Regions from separate parts of the Homo sapiens genome. Here region 1 is linked to region 2. The links come from fine-mapping of genetic effects on gene expression. A gene starts in region 2. The other region holds a variant in brackets. All regions are shown on one strand. Distances are between the middles of the regions. Region 1 overlaps SUPT6H (SPT6 homolog, histone chaperone and transcription elongation factor). Region 2 holds the start of ALDOC (aldolase, fructose-bisphosphate C).

Region 1 (15,287 bases), 100 kb before region 2:
TGCCCCCGCTATTCCCACCCTTATCTGGCCACAACAAACCATAATAATAAAAAAGCAAGTTTGTGTTTACTGAACAAAATCTTGTGTTTTCCATGCTTAATTTATAAGCTAAGCTGGTACTTTTTATGTTTCTCTCACACGAAAAATGTTTCACATGATTGAACCGATCTTTTCCATAGGTCAGGGGCTCTTGACTGAATAAAGTTCCTTACCTTTTCTTTAAAACATTTCCTAAGTTAAAATGGCTTGTGGCCCTTTGATAGCCCTAACCCCTGAAACCCGAAAACAAAGCCCACAAGGGAATTCCTCCTGCCCCATCCAGGCAGAGGGCATCACCTGTCCCCCAGGGAGGCCGTGTCGATCTTGAGGAAGCCAGCACAATTCATGAAGACTTTGGGACCCATGTGGCACATGGTGACCAGCTGGGTCCGGCTCTCGAGCCGGGTGTTGTTCTGCTTCAGGATCTGGGGGAGAGAGCTGGACTGAGCCAGGGCAGTAAGCAGGCCCCACCTCCCCAGACTGTTCCAGTCTCTATTAAACCCTCATAACAAAAACTCTGTCCCACCCAGTATCTAGTTGAGCACTACAGCATGCTATCGACCACTCAAAATTAAAAAAAAAAAAAAAAAAGTTTTGCTTTAAATGGGAAAATAATAAACAAATAAATGATGTTATACCTACACCAAAGACCATATACAACTAATGTATGGCTTATAAGTTACAAGTTAACACTAGTTGGCCGGGCGCAGTGGCTCATGCCTGTAATCCCAGCACTTTGGGAGGCTGAGGCGGGTGGATCACCTGGGGTCAGGAGTTTGAGACCAGTCTGGCCAACATGGTGAAACCCCGTCTCTACTAAAAATACAAAAAATTAGCTGGGTGTGGTGGTGCAAGCAGCAGTGAAGGGCACAGCTTTGGCCAACTGGGTCTGAAGTCAGACTCTTTTGACTCTCACTAGCTGAGTGATTTTGGACAAGTCACTGACCTTGGTCCTCCCAATCTGTCAAATTATACTGACAAAGTATATATTCATATTCAATGAAATGGCAAGTTTTAAAATTTCTGAATTCACTCCAATCCTACCTTCAGGAGGTGGGTCCCTTTCCGAGGTCCCAGGCCACAAACATACTGGATCAAGGCCTGGCTGTAAGGGTGGGCAATGGCACGGTTGACATCGACCCCGACCTCATTGACTCGGTTGATAAATTCACAGTACAAGGCGTTGAGCAGCTCCTCTTTCACCACATGCTCCTGTGGACATTCAGCAGGCAGGAGTAAGGTTACTCTGCCTTTCCCTTCACCCGAGCCTGCCTGTCAAATCCTACTCACCTGCAAGGGGTGAAACTTGAGACACAGGATGTCTTCATCGGAACTGCACACCTGGGCAAATTCAATCAGAGGGTCCTGGATGCGCCGGGCCAGGGAGACGGCCTGTCTCAGCACTGGAGGATAATCCCGGAACTCTGCCTAGAGTCAAACGAGGGTCAGCAGGGCCTTAAAATCCCCTTAGCTACAACATCAAGAGGAAATCCAAACCATTCTGGTTTAAATCATTTTCTCTGCTTCTCTGGGATCTTTTTTCCTGAGACCGATTTAATTTCTGGGACTCCCAATCTGAACCGTAACTGCAAAACGGAGAACTTCTGCATGGATAAGTACACAGGTACAGTCCTGTGCCCCTGATAACTTTTGTTTCCCAATTTAATCTCTTTGGGATTAATAGCACTTGCCTGGGCAGGCCCTAAGGGTGAGGCTCCAGCATTACCTCTGACTTCTTGCTGTTCATATAGAGAATGGCCAACTCGTTGTCAACCAGCTCTACCCCAATAGATGACAGCTGCTGGCCCTGGTCCAGCTCATGTACAATGCGCTTCACATCTTCAATCAACATCTGGGCGTCCCTGGTGGGATGAGTGTTGGTCAATGAATATGTTTTCTTAGGGATGGACAGTCTCATGACTGCCTTGGGGGTGAAGAGGTAGGGGAGGAAAGGGCTTTGAAGAAAATGAGGTCAAACATCCCCAGGGACACTCCCTGCACAAGCACAAGCCCCATCTGTTATGGGCATATGCCAGACTCAATAATAAGGGATGAGTTGGGTCACGGCCTTAAACCAGGTGTGGTCTAATCCCTACCTACCTGTTCTCTCCTGCAACTGTCACTACATGAGGCTTCTTATTCAGGAGAAATTTCTTTAGCGTTTCAATGTCTTGAGCCTGGATTGAAAGAAAATTGAAGCTGAATGGCTCTGAGGATGTAAAGATTTCAGGAAATTCTGTCTCCCTATGTTGGAGATCTTGTAAGAACTGGAAGTCTTCAGAAGATATCTGGTCCAAGGTGCTACCAAGGAACTATTCCCACCTCTTCCTGAAAGTTGGCCAACCCTGCCTCTGCTTAATAATTCCACTGACTAGAACTGCGCTCCAGTGGTACCAGGTGCCACTGGCTAGGTCCCAAGGATGAAGTTAGGAAACCGTTCTTTTTTATTGTAAACCAAAATCTAATACTTAGCCATTGGTTCTAGTTTTGATGAAGCAAAACAAAGAACTAGTAGCTGCCCTCTTTTGGGTGAGGGCCCTTTGAAAAGGTCAACATGGTTAAGTATGATTTCCTTCATCTTAAAGATGTCCAGTTTCTTATGATTTACTTTCCACTGCCTCACACTCCTGCATGTCCTCCTTTTGTGGCTATTTCATTTGTGGTGTGACTTTTGCTAAAATGTGAGTAGTTAGGACTATTAGATATTCTGATCTCCATTTCAAGATTTTAAGGGCTGGGTGCAGTGGCTCACACCTGTAATCCCAGCACTTTGGGAGGCTGAGGCAGATGGATCACTTGAGTCTAGGAGTTTGACACCTGCCTAGGCAACACGGTGAAACCGTGTCTCTACAAAAAATACAAAAATTAGACAGGCGTGGTGGTGCACGCCTCTGGTCCCAGCTACTTGGAAGGCAGGAGGATCACTTGAGCCTGGGAAGCAGAGGTTGCAGTGAGGTGAGTTCTTGCCACTGCGCTCCAGCCTGGAGATGGAGCAAGACTCTGTTTCAATAATAATAATAATAATAATAATAATAATAATAATGATAATAATAAAATTTAAAAAATAGTTGTTTCTTAAGAAGTTTTTCTTTCAAGAATGGGGCTCTGTTAACAAAACTGAAAGATACTACAGATACCATTAGGATAAACAAAATTCAGAAATATACCAACCAAATGAATTGAAAGTCTTCTTTCCCTGGAAAAAAGACACCCTGAAAGGCTAAAGCAGGGAAAAGGCTGGCTTCATGCCTCAGTAGCTTTCAGCTGCTGGAACAGCCTGACCCAGATGCTGGTAAGAAAAGAGGCAGTTAAAGCAACTCCAGAAGCACACAAGGCCTAGGAACTGGCCTCAAGCCAGAAGCAAATCCCGTACTAGATAACTTGAGTGCCATCTACTGCTCATGGAAGTGAGGCATCCCAGGGGACAAGTCAGTGACCAGATCAGACACAATCAGTCTTGCATAGGATGTTGCTTAGACCGTAAACACTTATCTCCACTGAATCATAAGACATACTCCAGATGTACACTTAGTATCCTCGTCCTAGCCACTTGCCTTCTTTTCCCGCTCTTCCTCTCTCCATGCAGTTCGCCGTTTGGTAAAATGGGGCAGTCGAAGGAAGTCTGTCACTTCTCCTTCACCATTGACCAGGGCGCAGAACACAGGGTGATCTCTGCCAGACAGACAGAAAAACAAGAATGCAATAATCAGCAATATGAAGTTATGAATGAGAGAAAAATGAAATTAGGAAGACAAGAGATGGTGCTGGGGAGGCAAAAATAGGCTGTTACCTGGCAGAGGAGAAAGCAATGCCGAGGACTCGAATGCCCTTCCCTTGGTTCTCGTCCATAAAGTCGTCATCTTCTTCCACCTGCTGATCTGGTCGGTAGGGTGCCACTCTCAACCAATTGTAGAGCTTTCGACTACAGGCCTGAGGGAAGAGACACAACAGGTATTACATACATGATGACATTATGGTCATCAGGCTCACCAAGAGTGCTATGGAAACACACTCATACACACATGTGCGAGGGTGTGTACTCTTATGTGCAGATGTTCCTAGCCATTGGCAGGCTTACCACCTGAAGGCATATCTTGCTTGTGGAAACAGGAGTGTATACAGAGAACAGTGATATAAACAAAGAATGTTTGGATGAGTGGGGCTGGGGGAGGGGAGAAGCTCCTGGAGCAGAGAGGTCTTAGAGGTGGTCCCTGTGGCCTTGTTAGCATTCCCTCTCAGATTATGCTTCACCTGCCCCCCGTGTTTCTCCATTAGCTATGGGACTATTCCTAAGGGGTTCCTTCATGCCCAACTATAGTTTGGGGAAATCATATGACTAAAAATCATGAGTCTCGGCTGGGCGTGGTGGCTCACGCCTGTAATCCCAGCATTTTGGGAGGCCAAGGTGGGCAGATCATGAGTTCAGGAGATTGAGACCATCCTGGCTAACACGGTAAAACCATGTTATTTTATACTAAAAATATAACATATTTTATACTAAAAATATAAAAAATTAGCTGGGCATGGTGGTGGGCGCCTGTAGTCCCAGGTACTCGGGAGGCTGAGGCAGGAGAATGGCATCAACCTAGGAGGCAGAGCTTGCAGTGAGCCAAGATTGCGCCACTGCACTCCAGCCTGGGCAACAGAGCAAGACTCTGTCACCAAAAAAAAAAAAAAAATCATGAGTCTCTGTCCTCACCTTTATGACATATTCCTTGGCTTCAGCCAGCAGCTTGTTCTTGAGTTCTTTGGCCATCTGCACATAGAGGAACTGCTGTAAAGCCCGTTCGATGGCCATGGTGCGCTGCCGGTTCCACTCCTGCACCTGGTGGCTGAACTCATCTCGGTAGTAAAACTGTTTTATCTCCTCAAAATATGTCTGGTCGTTGCCATAGCTGAGAAGAGACACAAAGCTATGGTGTCAGGAATGGAGAAAAGGTGACACCCAATGTCCATGAACATTCTAAGCAAGCCAGAGACAACAGCCTGCTCAACTCTGAAATTGTGGTTCCCCACTCCTGAGGGGCCCTTCCCTCCACCAGACTCCTCATCAGGCCTTCCCCAGAGAGTCGCCAGCCCAGGGCTCTGCTTACCCTTCCACTCCCTTCAAATCTATGCTGATGTCAGTGGTGAGGAGCCCTTCGTCTTCAGCCAGGCATATCTTGAGAAACTGGTCATCTCTCAGTTCCTTAACAGGCTTGTTCTTTAAATACTTGAAGGAATAGGCATAGTGGGCCTCATCCACATCCTGCACACATGAAGGGGGAATCATGAGCCTGCGGATGGGCTGGGCCAGGCCCCAGGAGAAAAGACAGCCTTTCTGCTTTCAGACACACAGCTCAGTGAAGTGGAAGGCAAGAAACTCAGGCAATCAAAGAAAGAGCTGGTGCACATCTTGGATCAAAGCCCTTCACCCAGCTCACCTTTCTACCTTTCTTGGTGGGGGTTATATTTAACTTGGCTCTCTCTTGGAAGGTTTGCCTCAGCACCTGCCGGACAAGGGGCTCACGGGCAATCTGCAGGGCTACCATGTAGCGGGCGCCTTCTAGCACAGCTTCTGGAGTAGGGAACTGGCTGTGGGGAAAATGGTGCAGCTACAGGACCAGGGTGTTGTGGTCCTCAGGCCCCTCCTCCTGTCAGCCACCTGCTGCATGCCTACCTGCAAACGTAATCCTTGGCCAGCTCCAAGGGCTCCGCGGGAAACTGCTCTGTCTCGTGCCGCTGGTAGCTATCCCGCAGGTTCTCCCCAAACTGCTCGGGAGTAAGCCCAAACTTTTTGGCCAGGCCATCTAAAGCAAACAGAAGAGTGAAGGGTAAGGCAGCAGATAGGCTGATAAACCTCTTGGCTTTCAGAATCTGGAGTTGGAATTCTGGGAACTAGCCTTTTTTATTTTCCTGAGACGGTCTCGCTCTGTTGCCCAGGCTAAAGTGCAGTGGTGTGATCATGGCTCATTGAAGCCTTAACCACCTGGGCTCAGGTGATCCTCCCACTTCAGCTTTCCCGAGTAGCTGGGACTACAGGTGTGTCCCACCACTCCTGGCTAATTTTTTCTGTATTTTTTGTAGTTTTGCTACGTTGACCAGGCTGGCCTCCAAATCCTGGGCTCAAGTGATCCTCCCACCTTGACCTCCGAAGTGCTGGGATTACATGCGTGAGCCACTGTGCCCAGCTAGAGCACTGGAATTTAAAGAGGCCATAAATGAGCAGGACCAGGTAGTCAAAGAACAATGAAAAAACTGATTTTAAACACTTGATGGGCTGTTATAAGGCAGAAGAAACAGACAGACTGGACTCTCTCCCTCCAATCATGAGTTTCCCATTATCTCAGGAAATTAGGGAGAGGCTGAACCATCATGTCGGGCGGGAATGGGTTTGGAGAGGGAGTATTTTTAAAGACCAGCTAATAGGCTAGTTCAGGATTGGATTGGTGATTGACCCAGATAGCCTTTCTTTTTCCTACCTACCAGTCTTTTTTCTGGGTAACTCCCCTTGCTCAGGCTAGAATGCCTAAATCCCAAAGCAGCTAGCTTTTACCTAGCCCAGCACTCTGGCAGATGGTGTACATGTCTCGGCGAGAGGCTTGCTTGAGCTCAGGCCCCCTCTGCTCCTCATCTTCTGCCTCGTCACCTTCACCTGGGAAGAAAACATGGGGAGATTTAGGGTTCTAGTTTCCAATCACTCCCAAGGATCTGACACATTAGGAGAGAAGCCTCAAAGGGTACCCAGCCAAGGGCCTCCTTCAAGATGCCATGGGCTGTCAAGTCTCCTGGGTTTTCTTTCTTGATTTTTTTTTTTTTTTTTTGAGACACAGCCTCGGTTTGTTGCCCAGGCTGGTGTGCAGTGGCATGATCTCAACTCACTGCAACAACTGCCTCTAGGTTCAGGCATGCCTCAGCCTCCTGAGCAGTTGGGATTACCGGCATGTGCCACCTACCCTGGCTACTTTTGTATTTTTAGTAGAGATGGGGTTTTGCCATGTTGGCCAGGCTGGTCTCGAACTCCTGACCTCAGGTGATCCACCCACCTTAGCATCTGAAAATGCTGGGATTACATGCGTGAGCCATCATGCATGGCCATCAAATCTCCTGGATTTTCTTTTCCAGCACTAACCTTCTTCATCTCCCTCTTCCCTGACACGCTTCAGCTTCTTGCGGCTAGCTTTGGCGGCGTTCTGCATCTTAGGGATGTCTCGGCCATAATAAAGAAGAAAATGGTTGTAGACATCTTTCAGCTCATCCATTGATTGGACATCCTTGAGCCTGAAAAAGAAGAGACATAAGGTTTCAGTCATCACTGCAGAAAGGGTATATCCCAATTTGGCTACAAGAGGTCCAATTCCCAAAAGGCAGTATCCCAACTAAAATGGGATCCCAACCAGTTTTTTCCAATTATTATTACTATTGTTATTATTTTTCTGAGACAGGGTCTCACTCTGTTGCCCAGACTGGAGATGGGATGATCACTTGAACCCGGGCGGTTGAGGCTGCCGCGAACTGTGACCACACCACTGCTCTCCATCCTAGGCAACAGAAGAAAGACCATTTCTTTTTTTCTTTTTTAAAGACACATAGCTGGTGCAGTGGCTCATGCCTGTAATCCCAGCACTTTGGAAGGCCAAGGCGGAGGGATCGCGACGTCAGGAGATAGAGACCATCCTGGCTAACACGGTGAAACCCCGTCTCTACTAAAAATACAAAAAACTAGCAGGGTATAGTGGCAGGTGCCTGTAGTCCCAGCTACTTGGGAGGCTGAGGCAGATGGTATGAACCTGGGAGGTGGAGCTTGCAGTGAGCCAAGATCGTGCCACTGCGCTCCAACCTGGGCGACAGAGTGAGACTCCTCTCAAAACAAAAACAAAAACAAAAACAAAACCAAGACACATGATAGCCCTAGAACATATCGTATTTATTTATTTTTTTGAGATGGAGTCTTGCTCTTGTCACCCAGGCTGGAGTGTAATGGCGTGATTTCGGCTCACTGCAACCTCCACCTCCTGGGTTTAAGAGATTCTCCTGCCTCAGCCTCGCGAGCTGGGATCACAGGCACGCACCACCACACCCGACTAATTTTTGTATTTTTAGTAGAGACAGGGTTTCACCATGTTGGCCAGTCTGGTCTCAAACTCCTGACGTCAGGTGATCTGCCCACCTCAGCCTCCCAAAGTGCTGGGATTACAGGTGTGAGCCACCACGCCCAGCCTCTCTTCTTTTGAGATGGAGTTTTGCTCATCACCCAGGCTGGAGTGCAATGGCACGATCTCGGCTCATTGCAACCTCCACCTCCCAGGTTCAAGCGATTCTCCTGTCTCAGCCTCCTGAGTAGCTGGGATTACAGGTGCCTGCCACCACACCGAGCTAATTTTTTGTATTTTTAGTAGAGACGGGGTTTCACCATGTTGGCCAAGCTGGTCTTGAACTCCTGACCTCAGGTGATCTGCCCACCTCAGTCTTCCAAAGTGTTGGGATTACAGGCATGAGGCACTGCGCCTGGCCTCCTTTTTCTTTCTTTCTTTTTTTTTTTTTTTGAGATGGAGTCTAGCTCTGTCGCCCAGGCCTGGAGTGCAGTGGCACGATCTCGGCTCGCTGCAACCTCTGCATCCTAGATTCAAGCAATTCTCCTGCCTCAGCCTCCCGAGTAGCTGGAATTACAGGCGCCTGTCCCCACGCCCAGCTAATTTTTGTATTTTCAGTAAAGACAGGGTTTCACTGTGTTGGCCAGGCTGGTCTCGAACTCCTGACCTCATGACCCGCCCGCCCTGGCTTCCCAAAGTGCCAGGATTACAAGCGTTAGCCACCGTGCCAGGCCCCAGCCCCCTTTTTCTTATGAGACAGGATCGGCCGGGCGCAGTGGCTCATGCCTGTAATCCCAGCACTTTGGGAGGCCGAGGCGGGCAGATCACGAGGTCAGGAGATCAAGACCATCCTGGCTAACACACTGAAACCCTGTCTCTACTAAAAATACAAAAAAAAACCGGATCTTGCTCTTTCACTCAGTGTGGAGTATAGTGGCATAATCATAGCTCACTGCAACCTTGAATTCCTGGGCTGAAGTGATACTCTTGCCTCATCCTCCCAAGTAACTGGGACTACAGGCAGAAGCCACCACGCCTGGCTTTGACAAGCTATAATTCTTTTTTTTTTTTGAGACGAAGTCTCGCTCTGTTGCCCAGGCTGGAGAGCAGTGGCACGATCTCAGCTCACGGCAACCTCCGCCTCCCAGGTTCAAGCAATTCTCCTGCCTCAGCCTCCTGAGTAGCTGGGATTACAGGCGTGTGCCACTGCTCCCAGCTAATTTTTTGTATTTTTAGTAGAGATGGGGTTTCACCATGCTGGCCAAGCTGATCTTGAACTCCTGACCTCAAGTGATCTGCCCGCCTCGGCCTCCCAAATTGCTGGGATTACAGGCATGAGCCACTGTGCCTGGTTGACAAGTTGGATTTCTAAGGGATGGGGCCCTGTGCTACACATTCTCCAAGGTTTAACAGTGCTCCTGCAGGGCCAGCCTTGGGGTCTGAGGGCTTCCCATAATGGAATAAACACCGCATGTTTTACCTCTCCATGTCAGTGGTGTCCAGAGCCCGGATGCCATCAGCAAGAGGTTTGTCAGGGTCAGCAGAGATCTGTTCATACTGATAAGCCTGCATCTTCTCAAACAGCCGTGTTAGGTTCTCTTTACGGATCCGCAGCTGGGTCCACTAAGGTGAAGTAGGGCAGGAATGAGAGCTTGTGTTCAGCCCTGGAGACTCAAGGCTGCTCTGATCCTTACCAGAAACCTAGTGGGGGAGGACTAGACAGGCCTGGGGGGTTTGGGTTTGTGGTATCCTGGTAGTAATGGTGCCTTCCCTGGCCCACACCTCTTGGGGGCCACGGATCTACATTACCTTTTCATCCCACTGCCAGACTCTCCATAGGTCATTGATGTGCAACTCAGGCTCCACATACTCCTTTCGATAGAAGGCAATAAAAGGCACCTAGGATGGCAAAGAGACTGCAGTCACTCAGAGAAGACAGATTTGCTAAGATCCCCTCTGTCAGTAGATAATGACTTCCTGGAGAAACAGCTCCAGGAAATTCAACAGTCAGAAGCCTGGCCTCCCTCACAGCCCTTCCAGGGCCTGGTGCTTTCCTCAATAGGAGAAAATAAAGCTGCAGACAGGGTAGCATTGTTCTTACGATCACTAGGGTCTCTGCTGGTCCTAACACTTGTTGAGTCATGGATAGGGGATACGGGAAGGGGGCTCCCACCTCATTTAGGTAATTATCTTTTCCCTCATCCCCTAACTAAATTTCTCACCAATGGGCCACCAGAGCTTGAGGTGTTACCTCAAAATGCTGATTTCGCATGAAGCCCAGGGCCTCTTTGATCTTCTGAATTGTGCTGGGCCCTTTCCGACTGAAGCTGCTGGCTGGCTGCCCTCGGTCTAGGTAATCACAGCTTTCCTACAGTAGGAAAATAAAGAAATAGCAAGACAATGTTTACTTGGTTTGTCTTACCATACAAGACTGCTTAATAACAAAGGATAACCTTTCTAGATGAAATCTAAAAAATTTTTCTCATATACACACACTTGTTGGGACTACATACACACAGTTTTCTAATACCAGGCACACGGATGTATGAAATAGGGGAGGAAGAGCTCCCCATCTTGATGAAGTGTCTTTTGGTTCATGTCAAAACCTAAGGATCTTTTTTGTGTACCTGGAGAGAAATGGTTGGTGTGGCAAAAGCATTCCTGTAGATCCAGTCAGCTTCTTCTTCTAGTTCATCATCTTCAGCCCCCTTGACTGGGATGGAGCGGAGCTGGAGTGGATAAGACAACAGGGTGAGAC[G/T]GACTTTATCTTGTGTCTCACTTAAGAAAAACATACCTTTTTGGACAGAAACGTGTGATCATCAAGTGCACATTTCCAGTATTGTTCTACAAATGCCATACCAGTGTTGTTCTGGCATGAAATAAGCATTTTTTTTTTTTGAGATGGTGTCTCACTCTTGTTGCTCAGGCTGGAACACAACGGCGCGATCTAGGGTCACTGCAACCTCCGCCTCCGGAGTTCAAATGATTCTCCTGCCTCAGCCTCCTGAGTAGCTAGGATCATAGGTGCCCGCCACCACGCCCAGCTGATTTTTTTTTTTTTGAGATGGAGTCTCGCTCTGTTGCCCAGGCTGGAGTGCAATGGCGCGATCTCAGCTCACTGTAACCTCCGCCTCCCAGGTTCAAGGAATTCTCCTGCCTCAACCTCCCAAGTAACTGGGATTACAGATGCATGCTGTCAACGCCCAGCTAATTTTTTTTTTTTTTTGTATTTTAGTAGAGACAGGGTTTTACCATGTTGCCCAGGCTGGCCTCTAACTCCTGAGCTCAGGCAATCCACCCACCTTGGCCTCCCAAAGTGCTAGGATTACAGGCGTGAGTCACCGTGCCTGGCCGCCCAGCTAATTTTTTACATTTTTAGTAAAGACGGGGTTTCACAATGTTGGCCAGGCTGGTCTCGAACTCCTGACCTCAGGTGATCCACCCACCTTGGCCTTCCAAAGTGCTGGGATTACAGGTGTGAACCACCGTGCCTGGCCATAAGCATTTCATGGTTTTTTTTTTTTGAGACAGGGTCTGCTTCTAGGCTGCAGTGCAGTGGTGCAATGATGGCTCACTGCAGCCGTGACCTCCCAAGTTCAAGCAATCTTCCCACCTCAGCCTCCTGAGTGGCTGAAACTACAGGTGTGCACCATCACAACCAGCTAGTTTTTTGTATTTTTTGTAGAGACAAGATCTCCCTATGTTGCCCAGGCTGGTCTTGAGTTCCTGGACTCAAGCAATCTGCCACCCTGGCCTCCTAAAGTGCTGGGATTATAGGTGTGAGCCACAGCACCCAGACTGCATTTCACAGATTTCTAAAGAAAACAGTATTTCTAGAACCGTAAGCAAGGTAGAGTCTATCTTCCCTTCTCTAAGAGCTGGATTTCCCAGGCCCCAGGTGAGATGAGGTTCAAACCTGTGCTGGATACTCAATGCCAGACTTTTGCTAGAATATTTCTTGGCTACAAGGTAATTATGGATTGGTAGAAGAGCAGAGGCTGGTGGTTTTTTACCTGGAACCTCTCAGGCAGGTCAGTGGCTCGGATTTCATTGTCCTGATCTGTGAGGTGGCTGCTTTCTAGCTCACTGGGCTCATACATTTCAAAGATGCTCCTACGGCTCACACGCTTCTTGGTGGTCTTCTTGGGGCGCACTCGGATTTCACCCTCAGCCTCATCATCCTCATACTCATACTCTTCCTCCAGTTCTTCATCATACTCATTGTATTTCTCAAATTCATCATAGTCAAAGTCCACACCGAAGATTTCCTGGGCTTCTTGCAGGGCCCTGTAGGTGGCAGCAAGAGGCAGGTGGCTCAGGTTCAGGTGAGAGGAGAGAAATGCAGCCCTTGCATAGATCCTTTACTTGTCCCAAGGGAACTGAGAGGGTTAGGAGGAAGGTAAACAAAATAACCATATTCACTGTGGACGAAAGGCTTCATTGGCGGATATTTCTGGGCAAACTATTGTATATGGAAGATTAAAAAGCTCATCTTTGGCACCTTCGAGTGACAGTAATCAAATAGCAACAGAGCAGACGGGTCTATGTCTTGCTCAGTGGACCCATCTTCTGCTAAGGCATTACAGTATTCCCTCAGGGCAAAAGCTTTCAAATTTGTAAATTGTGATGCGGGCATTTGTCTTCCAACAAAAATATATTAAGAATGTCAATATATATATAATTGAATAAACATGGAGCTGTAGGCGGAAGAGGAATGCTGGAGCCTTGCCCATGTGGGACTCTACTCCAATCCCACAGTAGTCCTAGAGTGCAGAGACAGCTCCCAGGGCTTCCGGGAGCAGTCTGAAATCACTGCCTGGTAGAGGTTATTTGAGGCAGGGAAGCAAAATGGCTGCAAGCTGGGAATGCCCCATTTTTGGCAAAGGCCTCTGATCTCCTCCTTCCTGACTGGGCCCACTCAATCACTTTATCCCCACCTTGTACCAGACCCCACTCACGCGTCTGTGTATCCAGGAAGCTTTTTCCGCCACTTAGGTTTTTTCAGAGGCTGTCCATCATCATCCACAATGAAGTCGTCAATATCTGGGTAGGAAAAGGATGGGTTGGGGCTCAGAGTCAGGGGCTGAGCCAGGACTAAATTGCTTTGGTTCCTACTATGTGAGTGGCCAGTGAGCAACAGAGAAGGGAAGCTCCTGAAAAGGAACTTCTTTGTGTCAAATGCTGGGGGATGTAGCTAAAGAATGGTTTCCATCCTGTTCCCATGGGCCAGGAAATCCCAATACCCATCCAAACACTGGCTTCCCTGCCCAATATAACATACCTGACTCCTCATCATCTTCTTCCTCCTCCTCTGGAGGAGCCATGGGGGCCTCCATGGCCTCCTGCCCTTCTTCCCCTTCCCCATCCTGGAAGATTTCTTCCGCAATAGCTTCTTTTTCATGTTCCTCCTTGCCATATTCCTCCTCGTCATCGTCCTCGTCATCTGACATTTTTTTGACACGCCGGTACTTTTGCTAGGGGTGGGAAAACCTGCCTTATCAGGATCTGAGGAGTCTGGCATACGGATACCAAATCTCCAGTCTCACTCCCTTCTTCCCACCACAATTACTCTGACCAAGAGAGATGGGAAAGAACATGCCGAGTGATGCTCTTGTAGCCTCAAAGCCCATCCTTGAAACTTGGACAAGACTTTCTCTAACAGGCACCCAGATCTGGGATGCAAATCTAGGCTCCGTAGTACAATGATACCGAACACCGTGCTCTAATGTTCTCCAAACTGTCCTGCGTGTGCCTCCTCACCCACAGACATTGAAATTTCCAGGGCTTTTTCCTTTACCCCCAGGGACAAAAGACAAAGAATGACACTTACTCCTCTTTTGACTTTGACACCCAAATTCTCCTCAATGAGGTCAAAATCATCATCCTCCAGGCGGTCATCAAAAGAGGCTGAAGAAACAAAGTGTTGCCCATGGTGATGGGGTTGCCCTTTTCCACTGCAACCTCCACCCAAGCCTCACTTGAGCCAACGACAGACTACTCACTGCGTTTTCTCTTCTTGTGGCCAACATCATCTTCTGAATCACCAGAGTCACTGCCCTCATCCTCCTCCCCTTCATCTTCATCATCATCGTCATTGATAAAGCCTTTCAAGTTGCCTTGCTCATCCTGATCATCTAGGTTCTCCTCCTCCTCCTCCTCATCTGGAAGACATGCATGTTTGAGGCATGGAGACTGAAAAACAGGCTAGAGGTTCAGGGTCACTTGATTAATGTGATTATCCATTTGCTCTGCACCTAATGACCTGGGTGCCATGTTAACTCTTCTGCCTCATGTAAAGATGCAAAACATAGCCATTGACTTAGAGTAGCAGCATCTGGAAAGAATGTTTTCTTCCCCTACATTCACCATCTGTCTTTGGGCAGGATGATCTTCCCCGTCACTTTGGCTTCTCAAAATCATTACTAGATTATTATAGCCACCAATAACTTTGTTTTACTCAGTTTGTAAACTCAGCAGCTATATTCCTTTTTTTTGCCATAATTCCTTTGATAAAACTTGTACGTCCCTTTACCCCTTTGAAGTCATTTCGTGGTTCTACTCTGTTGACAATTCTAAAGATTGGGCTTGGCCAGAGAAATAGGAAACGAGGTGAATAAATATCAACAATGCTAGGTCTAAAAGCAGAAAGTATTATATACAGACTTATCTACTGATTTATTATCAACCACCCCCCAACTAAAGTAAACTCCACAATAGCTGGATATTTATTGTTTTATATTTCTAGTTCCAGGCCTAGTGCCTGGCATACAGACAGATGCTCAGTTAGTATCTGCTAAGAATGACTGAAAGTTCTCAAGCTGGTACCTCATGTGTGATAACTTCTGTGCTGAGCCTGAGCTTTTCATCAGCAAGAATCCAACTATCCAAAGCTTAGCAATAGTGGGGAGAAGCTTGAGGCTGGGGCCTCCTCACCATCATCCTCCTCTTCCACAAATTTCTTGGTGACTCGGGGTACCACCTCGCCTTCATCATTGTATTCTTCCTCTGACTCCTCAGCCTCGCTTTCCACAAAATCAGACATTGCTGCAGCTTCTCACTCTGCCTGAAGATAACTAGGGAAAGAAAAGAGTGAAGGATAAAAAAACGGACACATGATTGTACAGAGGGCTCTTAAACCTTCCCACAAACAGCCTTTTAGCAACCTGCCACTGCTCT
Region 2 (11,998 bases):
CTCTGCCCAGTTAGAGGAGTGCAAAGGCCAAACAGAACAACTGGAGTTGGAAAACAGTCGTCTAGCAACAGGTGTTTGTGTGTGTGTGTGTGTATGCATGCATGTAAGCATTTGAGCCCTGTTAAGGCTTGGAGTGTGGCACTAGAGCAAGGAAGTACTCAGGAGCACTTGCTTTGGAGCAGAAGTTTGGGGAGTTTCTAGCCTGCTGACCGCATGGTGTCATTAGGATACTTTTGTTCTAGATCTCCGGGCTCAGTTGCAGATTCTGGCCAACATGGACAGCCAGCTAAAAGAGCTACAGAGTCAGCATACCCATTGTGCCCAGGACCTGGCTATGAAGGATGAGTTACTCTGCCAGCTTACCCAGAGCAATGAGGAGCAGGCTGCTCAGTGAGTTCCTAACGGGGTACTGTGGCAGTAGGCATCCAGGATTTAGGACCAAATGGGATCTAATATGTTGTCTCTGGCAGATGGCAAAAGGAAGAGATGGCACTAAAACACATGCAGGCAGAACTGCAGCAGCAACAAGCTGTCCTGGCCAAAGAGGTGCGGGACCTGAAAGAGACCTTGGAGGTAAGGAATATGGCTTGGGCCAAGGGAGCTGGTAAGCCTCAGGAGTGTGATTCTTGCCTGATAGTGTTGAGGTAAGGTTTGAGACTGTGAACTAGAAAAAGCCTCTGTACCCAGGGCACTAAAATTCTCCCTCCCTGTCTTGCTCCTTCTCTTGTCTTCCCAGTTTGCAGACCAGGAGAATCAGGTTGCTCACCTGGAGCTGGGTCAGGTTGAGTGTCAATTGAAAACCACACTGGAAGTGCTCCGGGAGCGCAGCTTGCAGTGTGAGAACCTCAAGGACACTGTAGAGAACCTAACGTAAGTTCTCTAACTTTCTGTACTTCCCCCTAAGTGCTTATTTTTTTCTCAGGAACACTTCTAGAAGCCAAAATCTCCAAGAAGAGAACTGTGAGTGTTGAGCCTCTTGTTTCTCTCCTTTAATGCAGCTCTGTGGGGATTTGGGATAGGCGTTCAGAGAAGGTAATTTGGTCTTTGGTCATCTTCCCTGTTCCTTATTTCAGGGCTAAACTGGCCAGCACCATAGCAGATAACCAGGAGCAAGATCTGGAGAAAACACGGCAGTACTCTCAAAAGCTAGGGCTGCTGACTGAGCAACTACAGAGCCTGACTCTCTTTCTACAGACAAAACTAAAGGAGAAGGTAGGATCCTGGGGTTCCTTCTCTTCTCTTCCAATTGTATCTTTATTTTACAGATAGTCTTCCTAAAACATTACTCTTTTTCTAACTGTGACCTTTTATGATTTCAGTTACCTACAGGACCTCATTAGCCTGTTGCTCAAACCTTTCTTCCCCTGTCTCCTATCTCCCTATTATGAACACTTTGCCCCAGCTAGACTGCCTGTATGCTACACACATGTCCCCATTTTTATCCCCAGAACCCAGACTCTGGCTGTTCCCACATTCATTCTATTCTTTCTTCAAACTGGAAATGCCTTTTCTATTAAAATCCTCCCTTCCGACCTGGGCAACGTGGTGAAAACCATCTCTACAAAAAAATACAGAAATTAGCCCAGGTGTAGTGTTGTGAACCTGTAGTCCCAGCTATCTGGGAGGCTGAGGTGAGAGGATCACCTGAGCCTGGGAAGTTGAGGCTGCAGTGAGCCATGATCATACCTGGCTAATTTTTTTGTATCACTGCACTCCAAACTGGGTGAGAGTGAAACCCTTTCCCCCACAAAAAAAGAAATCTTCCCTGGTTTACCTTCTTTGAACTGTTCCCAAATCAAATCATGTGGACCCGGTGATCTTTTCTTCTGCCATATTTCTCATGAACTTACTCTTCTTTTGTATTTGTATTAATTTTCCTTGGATACCTGGTCTCTTCAACCAGACTATGTTTCAAGAAAGCAGAAATATAGCCTTCTTTGGCCTCCCTGCAGTGTGCACTAAACAATAAATGGTTGACATCATTCAGAATACAAAGGTAATTAGCTTATTCAGCAGATAAGGCACAACAAATATCCTAAAATCTGGCAATTGCTTATGACCTGATCCTCTTCCCCAACTGGGTACCGAGCACAGGAAATGCCATCAAATCTACAGTTTAGCATGGAAGACAAACAGATGTAAACTTGTCATCTTGACTTATGATCATGGTAGAGGTCTGCATGGACCACTGTGAGAGATAGAGAGGGGAGCACCACTTCAGCCTTCGAGAATTAGGATGCCTTCTCAAAGCAGCTGACCTTGGGTACAGTCTTGAGGTTTAGACGTTTGTGGGGCAGGGGAGGGTATTTAGGAAGTCCCACTAGGCAGAGGGAACGGTGTATGAAAGTTTCATCTGACTACATATGAGAGTCGTACGTAGAAAGTCATGCACATAGTACATGATGTGTTCTTTTTTATAGTGTCTACCTTATAAAACCTGGGTTAGGTGCTGGGACTAGAGGATGAACAAGGCAAGATGCTGCTCATATGGAATGCAGCAAGTCTGAGGAATGGGAAGCAGCTCTTCATGGCTGCAGCGTGAGAGCTCTGTGGGGCAAGGCAGGAGACAACACTGGAGAAGTAGGCAGGAGGCCAGATTTTGAAGGCTTGAAATAATGGCAGTTTTATAGGCAGTAGAAAGGAGAGGATGGAGTGAATGGATTCAATAGATATTTAGGAAGCAGAGGCAGTAGAACCAATTTGATGTAAGAGTGACCAATTTGATGTGAGAGTAAGTTAGAAGAGTGAATGATGATCCTTAGATTGCTAGGAAAGAGGGCCCAGCGGGTCAGCTGTGTTAGTGTGTGGAGACTAGGGCTAGTGACACCTCCGGGTCAGCTCTGTGCCCAGGAAGCACTTCAACCTGTGTGGCAGGAGGGATAGCAATAGGAAGCACTTCAATTCCCCACAACTCAGACACCCAGACGGGAGGGCAGAGGACCAAGGCTGAAAGGAGTAGAGAGCCTGAGAGAGAGATGAGACTGAGGGGAGCTAGTGGTGACTCAGGCTAACCAGTCAGCGGGAGAGACCTAGACCGGGGGGCAGAGAAGGCGGGAGAACTGGAGAGAGGACCTAGCCTAGGAGGAGAGGGAGCAGGCTGAGAAGGAAATGCTCTGGGTAGGAGAGACAGACTCCAAGGAAAAATCCAACAAGTAGAGGAGGATTTGGGATTGGAAAAGCTGAGGTCCAGCTGGGAGAGCTGAAGAGGGATAGAACAGAAGAGGTTGAGCCATGGGGTTTCAAGTACGCGGAAAGGAGCAAAGATGTTAGGAAAGGGTCGAAAGGGCACATCCCGGAGTCCCAGGTAGCAGGACGAGGATGGCAGGGGAAGAGCCAAGGAAATGAAGCGGAGATGTTGAGTGGCTCCCGCCTTGCCTGGCCTTACCTGTGCGCAGCCAGTTAGCAGCCGCAGCCACAAGCACAGCTACTTCAGGACTGAGGCCAGCAAGCTTTTCCTATAAATGGCCATATAATAAGTATTTTTGGCTTTTTGGGCCATATGGTCTCTGTCTCAACTACTCAATTCTGCCTTTGTAGTTCAAGAGCAGCCATAGATGATACAGCCATTAATGGGTCTGGCTGTGTTCCAATAAAACTTTATTTACAAAAATAGTTGGCAGGCTAGATTTGACCTGTAGGCCACAATTTGCTAGCCTTCCCTCTCCCTGCTCTAGAATAGTAAATACAGGAGTAGGAACAGACTTTTGATAGGGTGTTCCCTATCAGGGCACAGGGAAAATGGTGAACTCAGCTTCATACATACTAAGTTGACAGATTGACTGTGGAACCTTCTGGTAGATTCTTCACAGGCAGTTAGCCTTTGAGTCTGCAGACTGGGAAAAAGACTGGGAAAAAGTTGAGAGAGGGATGGAAGAGTCATTCATGTGGAAGGGAAGTTTGAAGTAGATGTTTTTGTGATGCTCCCAAGGCAAGGCCACCCTGGGAATGAATTAGAGTAAATTTAGGGCCAAGGACTTAACCCAGAGGATCCAGCAGTTAAGGAAGGACCTGTGAATAGAGAAGAAATAACCAGAAAGGTGTGGGGCCTGCCTTTAAAGGAGAGAGACTCATGTCCTGGAAGCTAAGAAAAGGAAGTTTCTAAAAGAACAATGTGGTCATCAATATCAAATAGGTCAGGTAAAACAAGAGCTGAAATATATGCATTGCATTTGAAAGTAAGGCTGCCATTGGTGAACCAAATGACAAGAATTTAGGTGGAATGACAGGGGAGAAGCCTGAGTGTAGTGGGCTGGGGAGTCAATAGATGGTGAGAGTTATAAACAAGAAGTATAGGCTCTTTTTTTCTTTCTTTTTTCTTTCTTTCCTTTCTTTCTAGAAAAGGCAGTAGCTAAAAGGGGATTTAAGGTAAGAAGAAGGGTTTTGTTTTGTTTTGTTTAGGTTTGTTTTTAAAATACTGCTGTTTTTGTTGGAGAGGCTTAAGAATATAAACATGTTCAGAGAAAGGCACTAATGGAGAAGTTGAAGATAGAGAATTGAGATAATAGGTGGAACAGCATTTTGGAGGAGATGGCTGGGAGTTACCTGGAAGCCCAGGAGTTCACTAGACCTGAACAGCAGCTATTTTTTCTTCTTTGCCCTTAGACTGAACAAGAGACCCTTCTGCTGAGTACAGCCTGTCCTCCCACCCAGGAACACCCTCTGCCTAATGACAGGACCTTCCTGGGAAGCATCTTGACAGCAGTGGCAGATGAAGGTTAAAGGCCCTGGGATTTGGGGGTGGGAAAGTTGTGACGCTGCTCCTGATATCTTCTGCTGTTGAAGATGTCCACCAGCGGGCTTGTCTATCTTACCCTGGCTTCCATTATGGTAGACCCCTGCCTGGATCATCAGAGGGGCCCTCTCCCATTATTGGTTTTTCTCTTAGAGCCAGAATCAACTCCTGTGCCCTTGCTTGGAAGTGACAAGAGTGCTTTCACCCGAGTAGCATCAATGGTTTCCCTTCAGCCCGCAGGTTAGGAGGGGCTCCAGGGATCCTGCCTCATTTCTAGAAAATCTGGTGGTGATGAGTAAAGACGAAAGCAGTGAGAAGTGCTTTGCTCTAAAAACCTCAATTCTACTTGGGCTCATTTTATTTCTGCCTTCTGGGATCTGTAATGTTCCAGACATTCAAATCCTGTGGGTGGGGAACACGGATAAGAGTTGTGGAAATGATGGCTATACACTCCTTCCTTCCAGGGCTGGAAGGCTAGACCTCTATCTGGGACTTTCTCTTTCAGAGACCCCAGGCATGGAGGAGAGCCTGGCAGAAATGAGTATTATGACTACTGAGCTTCAGAGTCTTTGTTCCCTGCTACAAGAGTCTAAAGAAGAAGCCATCAGGACTCTGCAGCGAAAAATGTGAGTGGGATGCAGTTTTGGTGACAGAGGGACAGTGAGACATCCTCTTATGCCAAGGGTCCAACTGATCCCTGAGAGGACAGGAATGTTGCTAAATTCTTCCTTCCTTCAGTTGTGAGCTGCAAGCTAGGCTGCAGGCCCAGGAAGAACAGCATCAGGAAGTCCAGAAGGCAAAAGAAGCAGACATAGAGAAGCTGAACCAGGCCTTGTGCTTGCGCTACAAGGTGAAGGAGGGACCTAGAAGTGGGGCGATGAAGAACTGGGGCAGCTCTACTGGCCCACTGGGAGCCATTATCTCTCCAGGAATCTGGGTGGTGGGGATTTTCCAACCACTGCCCTAGTTTTGCCCTTCCTGGGGTCAGACATTTCACATGTCAGCTATGGGCTGACCTGTCTTCCCAGGCTGACTCAGGAGAGAAGTCAGGAACTCTAGCAGAGCTCTCCCAACACTGAAATGTGCCTTGCCTGGCTTGGCCCTGGGGAAAGAATTGGCGTGATATCAATTGGTCCCATGTGGGCTAAGCATGGGTCAGGCACTCTCTCCTACCTCCTGGCAAGGGCTGTGAAGAGACCAGCTCTTCATGTGTCTTCTCACCTCCCTTTCCCTCACAGAATGAAAAGGAGCTCCAGGAAGTGATACAGCAGCAGAATGAGAAGATCCTAGAACAGATAGACAAGAGTGGCGAGCTCATAGTATGTTCACCATCATGCCCAGGCCTTTGCCTTCTGTGTTACTGGTCAGCCAGGATCCCAAGTATGAGAAATGGTTTGCTTTTGTTCACCACATGTTGTCTATCCTTATGTCCTATTGGACACCTCTCCATTCTCATTCCCAGAGCCTTAGAGAGGAGGTGACCCACCTTACCCGCTCACTTCGGCGTGCGGAGACAGAGACCAAAGTGCTCCAGGAGGCCCTGGCAGGCCAGCTGGACTCCAACTGCCAGCCTATGGCCACCAATTGGATCCAGGAGAAAGTGTGGCTCTCTCAGGAGGTGACTCAGAGTTAACAGAGGAGCTGGACAGCAGGTGGGGACCCCAGGCTGTACCCCTGTTGATCTGGACATATTTCTAGGTGGACAAACTGAGAGTGATGTTCCTGGAGATGAAAAATGAGAAGGAAAAACTCATGATCAAGTTCCAGAGCCATGTAAGAATGTCCATGCCATTCCAGGGCCATTTCCTACCATCGTTAACAAATGCCCCGCCATGTTTCCCCTGTCCTACCAAGTTTGCTCTTTTATGCATAGGACTTATAAAATCTGTTTGCTTTCTAGAGAAATATCCTAGAGGAGAACCTTCGGCGCTCTGACAAGGAGTTAGAAAAACTAGATGACATTGTTCAGCATATTTATAAGGTATAGGCAGGAGGGAGGTGATATCACTAATGAACCTGGTACAAGGCCTGGCCCCAGGAGGTACTAATGAGCACAGATCTGGTTCCCAGCCTGTGCTGAGAGCTGGGCCTGAATCACTATTGCAGGCTTCTCTGTGGTGTCTGTTTTCTCCCCTCTAATTCAGCGGCTGCCTCCTGGGGCTGGGAGCCCTGGGCCTTAAGTCTGTGGTCCTGAGCTGCGTTTTCTGCCTCTCTTCCCAGACCCTGCTCTCTATTCCAGAGGTGGTGAGGGGATGCAAAGAACTACAGGGATTGCTGGAATTTCTGAGCTAAGAAACTGAAAGCCAGAATCTGCTTCACCTCTTTTTACCTGCAATACCCCCTTACCCCAATACCAAGACCAACTGGCATAGAGCCAACTGAGATAAATGCTATTTAAATAAAGTGTATTTAATGAATTTCTCCAAGCTTACGGAATCTTACTTTTTGGGTGAGAGGGGGCGGATGATGAAGTCAGGGAAGAAGCAGCTTGGGCCTCCTGCCTGGGCACCCTCCATAGATCCCTCTCCACCTCCTGCTGCATCCAAAGCCAAGGCTGCCTGCCCTTCCTCCCTTCCTCTGCTTTCACCAAAACTCTGGGCACTGGACTGCTTGTTCCCTGGCTCACCGCCTGGAGGAAACAGAAAGGCTTCATTCTCTTACTTTCCCCAGCCCCCTCGGGGGTATACCCTGGCAAATATGGGGGTGAGGACAGAGAAGCTCAGTTCATTACTTCCTGCCCTGAACTTGGGCACCTTGAAGATGCTTCTGCCCCACCTACTCAACCTGTTGTTACTGTTCTGGTGCCTCCTCTTCACCAGACTAAGCTTAATCCCCAGCATCCAGCAAGTGCCCGGCACGTGGTAAAGGGATTGTGGCAGAAATGAACGCAAGGTCATGGCCAGGCTCCCCGAGGTGGGAGGGCAGTCCCTAACAGCCACGGATGCCTGGCGGGGCGCTCACTCCACCTCGCCGCCCCGCCTCTGAGGGCGTGGTCTTGCCCCGGACACCAGTCCTGGGGAGGGGGTGTGGTCAGGGCGGGGCATGCAGGCCACGCCCCCGGAGGAGTCACGTAGCTCTGCGACATCCGCAGCCTCATTTACCAGAGGGAGCCAGGGCTGCAGCCTCATCTGTTTGCGGATCAGAACCCGAGCTGTGCTTGTGGCTGCGGCTGCTAACTGGCTGCGCACAGGTAAGGCCAGGCAAGGCGGGAGCCACTCAACATCTCCGCTTCATTTCCTTGGCTCTTCCCCTGCCATCCTCGTCCTGCTACCTGGGACTCCGGGATGTGCCCTTTCGACCCTTTCCTAACATCTTTGCTCCTTTCCGCGTACTTGAAACCCCATGGCTCAACCTCTTCTGTTCTATCCCTCTTCAGCTCTCCCAGCTGGACCTCAGCTTTTCCAATCCCAAATCCTCCTCTACTTGTTGGATTTTTCCTTGGAGTCTGTCTCTCCTACCCAGAGCATTTCCTTCTCAGCCTGCTCCCTCTCCTCCTAGGCTAGGTCCTCTCTCCAGTTCTCCCGCCTTCTCTGCCCCCCGGTCTAGGTCTCTCCCGCTGACTGGTTAGCCTGCATCACCACTAGCTCCCCTCAGTCTCATCTCTCTCTCAGGCTCTCTACTCCTTTCAGCCTTGGTCCTCTGCCCTCCCGTCTGGGTGTCTGAGTTGTGGGGAATTGAAGTGCTTCCTATTGCTATCCTCCTGCCAAACAGGTGAAGTGCTTCCTGGGCACAGAGATGACCCGGAGGTGTCACTAGCCCTAGTCTCCACACACTAACACAGCTGACCCGCTGGGCCCTCTTTCCTACATCACTGCAGCCCCACTGGGGCCAACCTCTGGTACTGGGTGGGAATAGGCAATAGGCATAGGCAGGCAGGTTTGGAGTACAGAAAAGGAGAAGCTGCAGGAGCCTGTGACTGGTATTTGTGCCACTCCTACTCCCTACCTGTTCTTCCAACCTTTTCCTCTAGAAGCTGAGAGAAGAGGGTGGCAATAAGTACTTTTGCCTCATTCTGAAGCCTTGGAAGTAAGTACACTTTCCCTAGGGGTCCTGTGGAGGATGAGAAAAGGGAAGCTGGAAAGGCCAGGACTTTTGCCTACCTCAACAAGGGACCAAGTTCAGTGAAAGAAGGGTTGGCATCCTTGATTGGGCAGCAGATTTATCAGAAGAGCTGTGGCTTCAGGGCTGCTCACCTCCCCACCCCCACCCTGCATCTTTCCCCAGGGCTGGGAAGGATGCCTACCAGGGACAAAAGGAGATGTGGGAACTGGAGCCCTAAGCTTGCTAGCTGTCAGAAGGACTGGTGCCACTTGATGCCCAGGACTCATGCCAAGGACTGCTGCCCTGTTCCCAGCCCCTTGCTTGATGGGGAGGCCATTTGGCCCATCTGGCCAGGAGAGGCAGCAGAGGGTGAGGTCTGGCTTTTTTATCTTGTCTCCACTCCAGGGAGCTGTCACCATGCCTCACTCGTACCCAGCCCTTTCTGCTGAGCAGAAGAAGGAGTTGTCTGACATTGCCCTGCGGATTGTAGCCCCGGGCAAAGGCATTCTGGCTGCGGATGAGTCTGTAGGTAAGTGGACATCTGTAGCCAGGTAGGGTACAGGTGGCTAGGGGACCCTGGGGATGTTCTCACTGCCTCTCTTTGTTTGCCCCTAGGCAGCATGGCCAAGCGGCTGAGCCAAATTGGGGTGGAAAACACAGAGGAGAACCGCCGGCTGTACCGCCAGGTCCTGTTCAGTGCTGATGACCGTGTGAAAAAGTGCATTGGAGGCGTCATTTTCTTCCATGAGACCCTCTACCAGAAAGATGATAATGGTGTTCCCTTCGTCCGAACCATCCAGGATAAGGGCATCGTCGTGGGCATCAAGGTGCAGCCCCTGGCCCTGCTCTGAATGGAAGCTGGGTGTGAAAATAAGCTTGTGTAGGAGGGGTAGCAAGGAGAATCCTGCCTGGATTCAACCCTCTGCTTGTACTTCCTCTACAGGTTGACAAGGGTGTGGTGCCTCTAGCTGGGACTGATGGAGAAACCACCACTCAAGGTATAGGATGGGTGGGCTTGAGGACCAAAGAGGTGTTAGATAGTTGATGCTGGTAAAAGAGGGGCAGAGTAATGAGGTTGGCACTGTGCTTGCAGGGCTGGATGGGCTCTCAGAACGCTGTGCCCAATACAAGAAGGATGGTGCTGACTTTGCCAAGTGGCGCTGTGTGCTGAAAATCAGTGAGCGTACACCCTCTGCACTTGCCATTCTGGAGAACGCCAACGTGCTGGCCCGTTATGCCAGTATCTGCCAGCAGGTGTGTGTGTTGGGAGGGTGGTGAGCTAGGTGCCCTGTATGCCTGGTGGGGAGAGAGTCACAAGGCTTTCTTCATCTCCCCTACTGCCCCTCCCAAGCATCTCTGCTCTTGCCTGCAGAATGGCATTGTGCCTATTGTGGAACCTGAAATATTGCCTGATGGAGACCACGACCTCAAACGTTGTCAGTATGTTACAGAGAAGGTGAGTCCACACCTGGGCACACAAACATACTGCAGGGACAGCTCGGCAGGAGTGTCTGTTCCCCAGAACCCCCAGCTTAGATCCAGGCACACTTTCCCCTAGCACTTTTTCACTTCATCCCGGCACAGGCCTGTGATCTGAGCCTGTACTGAGCCCTCACAGTCTGTGCCCATCTACCCCTACATAGGGAGCATCGAGCAGTAACCAGTGGGGGCCCAGACCCTTAGTAAACCTCCTCTAATCCCCACCCAGGTCTTGGCTGCTGTGTACAAGGCCCTGAGTGACCATCATGTATACCTGGAGGGGACCCTGCTCAAGCCCAACATGGTGACCCCGGGCCATGCCTGTCCCATCAAGTATACCCCAGAGGAGATTGCCATGGCAACTGTCACTGCCCTGCGTCGCACTGTGCCCCCAGCTGTCCCAGGTACTACCCAGCTCCCTAACCTGCTCCTATCCCTAAGGCCCATCTTCAGGTCCTTCTTGTGGCCTTCAGGGGTTCCCTATCCTGGAAAAATTGGGAGTGACCAGTCAGTTTGTCTTCTCTCCTCCACACTAGGAGTGACCTTCCTGTCTGGGGGTCAGAGCGAAGAAGAGGCATCATTCAACCTCAATGCCATCAACCGCTGCCCCCTTCCCCGACCCTGGGCGCTTACCTTCTCCTATGGGCGTGCCCTGCAAGCCTCTGCACTCAATGCCTGGCGAGGGCAACGGGACAATGCTGGGGCTGCCACTGAGGAGTTCATCAAGCGGGCTGAGGTTGGGAGCTACAGGTGGTGGTGGGTGGGGGCAGCACCCAGAGGCTATAGCCTGGGCAGGGCTTGGCACCTGTGGGCTGGCTCAGCCTGCTTACTCCACGCTCCCTTTTGCAGGTGAATGGGCTTGCAGCCCAGGGCAAGTATGAAGGCAGTGGAGAAGATGGTGGAGCAGCAGCACAGTCACTCTACATTGCCAACCATGCCTACTGAGTATCCACTCCATACCACAGCCCTTGGCCCAGCCATCTGCACCCACTTTTGCTTGTAGTCATGGCCAGGGCCAAATAGCTATGCAGAGCAGAGATGCCTTCACCTGGCACCAACTTGTCTTCCTTTCTCTCTTCCCTTCCCCTCTCTCATTGCTGCACCTGGGACCATAGGATGGGAGGATAGGGAGCCCCTCATGACTGAGGGCAGAAGAAATTGCTAGAAGTCAGAACAGGATGGCTGGGTCTCCCCCTACCTCTTCCAGCTCCCACAATTTTCCCATGATGAGGTAGCTTCTCCCTGGGCTCTCCTTCTTGCCTGCCCTGTCTCCTGGGATCAGAGGGTAGTACAGAAGCCCTGACTCATGCCTTGAGTACATACCATACAGCAAATAAATGGTAGCAAAACATTCTACTTTGCCTGTCTGTTTTACACATCAAATTCCCACCTCCCAGTTTCTGATCTCTGCTAATTCTATCTCTGGGCCCTCTGACTCTGGAGGTGGAGAGGGTGGGATTTGAGTCTTACTGGGCTTCAAGTTATGGAGGAAGGGCACATGCAGTCACCATCCCCAGCTCAGGCTCTTGCTCTCTTGATGTCCAAGTCTGGAGTGGGGCAATGAGGAAGACTGCAAGTCTTCTAGGGACTGCCACATCAGTGGCACTGGGCTGCAGCTACAGAAGTATGGAGTGAGGCCAAACTGGCAACTCCTGAAGGCAGATTTGTGCAAGGCTCAAAGCAGGGAGGCAGCAAGACAGGCTGGGATAAGAGTGGGTGGGAGTCTCTCCCATCTCGCAGTGTTAA

The links. PIP is the estimated chance that this variant, and not a neighbour inherited with it, causes the effect.
Region 1: its variant is fine-mapped to the expression of ALDOC in whole blood (INTERVAL, PIP above 0.99).

The regions. Positions count from the first base shown.
Region 1 is chr17:28,673,268-28,688,554 of GRCh38, reverse strand. SUPT6H (SPT6 homolog, histone chaperone and transcription elongation factor) reads right to left here. Exons shown (of 37, transcript NM_003170.5): 2 at 15,045-15,184; 3 at 14,114-14,272; 4 at 13,942-14,018; 5 at 13,393-13,585; 6 at 13,070-13,154; 7 at 12,125-12,398; 8 at 10,739-10,840; 9 at 10,363-10,479; 10 at 9,921-10,010; 11 at 9,592-9,734; 12 at 7,151-7,299; 13 at 6,575-6,673; 14 at 5,699-5,828; 15 at 5,463-5,613; 9 more. The coding sequence starts at 15,153. Among named protein-coding and RNA genes, the nearest start is that of SUPT6H, 19 kb to the right of the region's middle. The variant G/T (reference allele first, on the strand shown) is at 10,870.
Region 2 is chr17:28,572,725-28,584,722 of GRCh38, reverse strand. It overlaps ALDOC (aldolase, fructose-bisphosphate C), which reads left to right and starts at 7,828. Exons shown (of 9, transcript NM_005165.3): 1 at 7,828-7,922; 2 at 9,179-9,302; 3 at 9,389-9,600; 4 at 9,717-9,771; 5 at 9,867-10,027; 6 at 10,146-10,229; 7 at 10,482-10,656; 8 at 10,789-10,988; 9 at 11,102-11,603. The coding sequence starts at 9,191. The coding sequence ends at 11,197. It overlaps SPAG5 (sperm associated antigen 5), which reads left to right. Exons shown (of 24, transcript NM_006461.4): 11 at 1-71; 12 at 243-390; 13 at 471-573; 14 at 737-870; 15 at 1,074-1,212; 16 at 4,603-4,714; 17 at 4,886-4,972; 18 at 5,238-5,358; 19 at 5,471-5,582; 20 at 5,971-6,051; 21 at 6,195-6,350; 22 at 6,431-6,505; 23 at 6,633-6,713; 24 at 6,953-7,149. The coding sequence ends at 7,024. RefSeq lists an enhancer at 7,426-7,605 and a silencer at 7,656-7,895.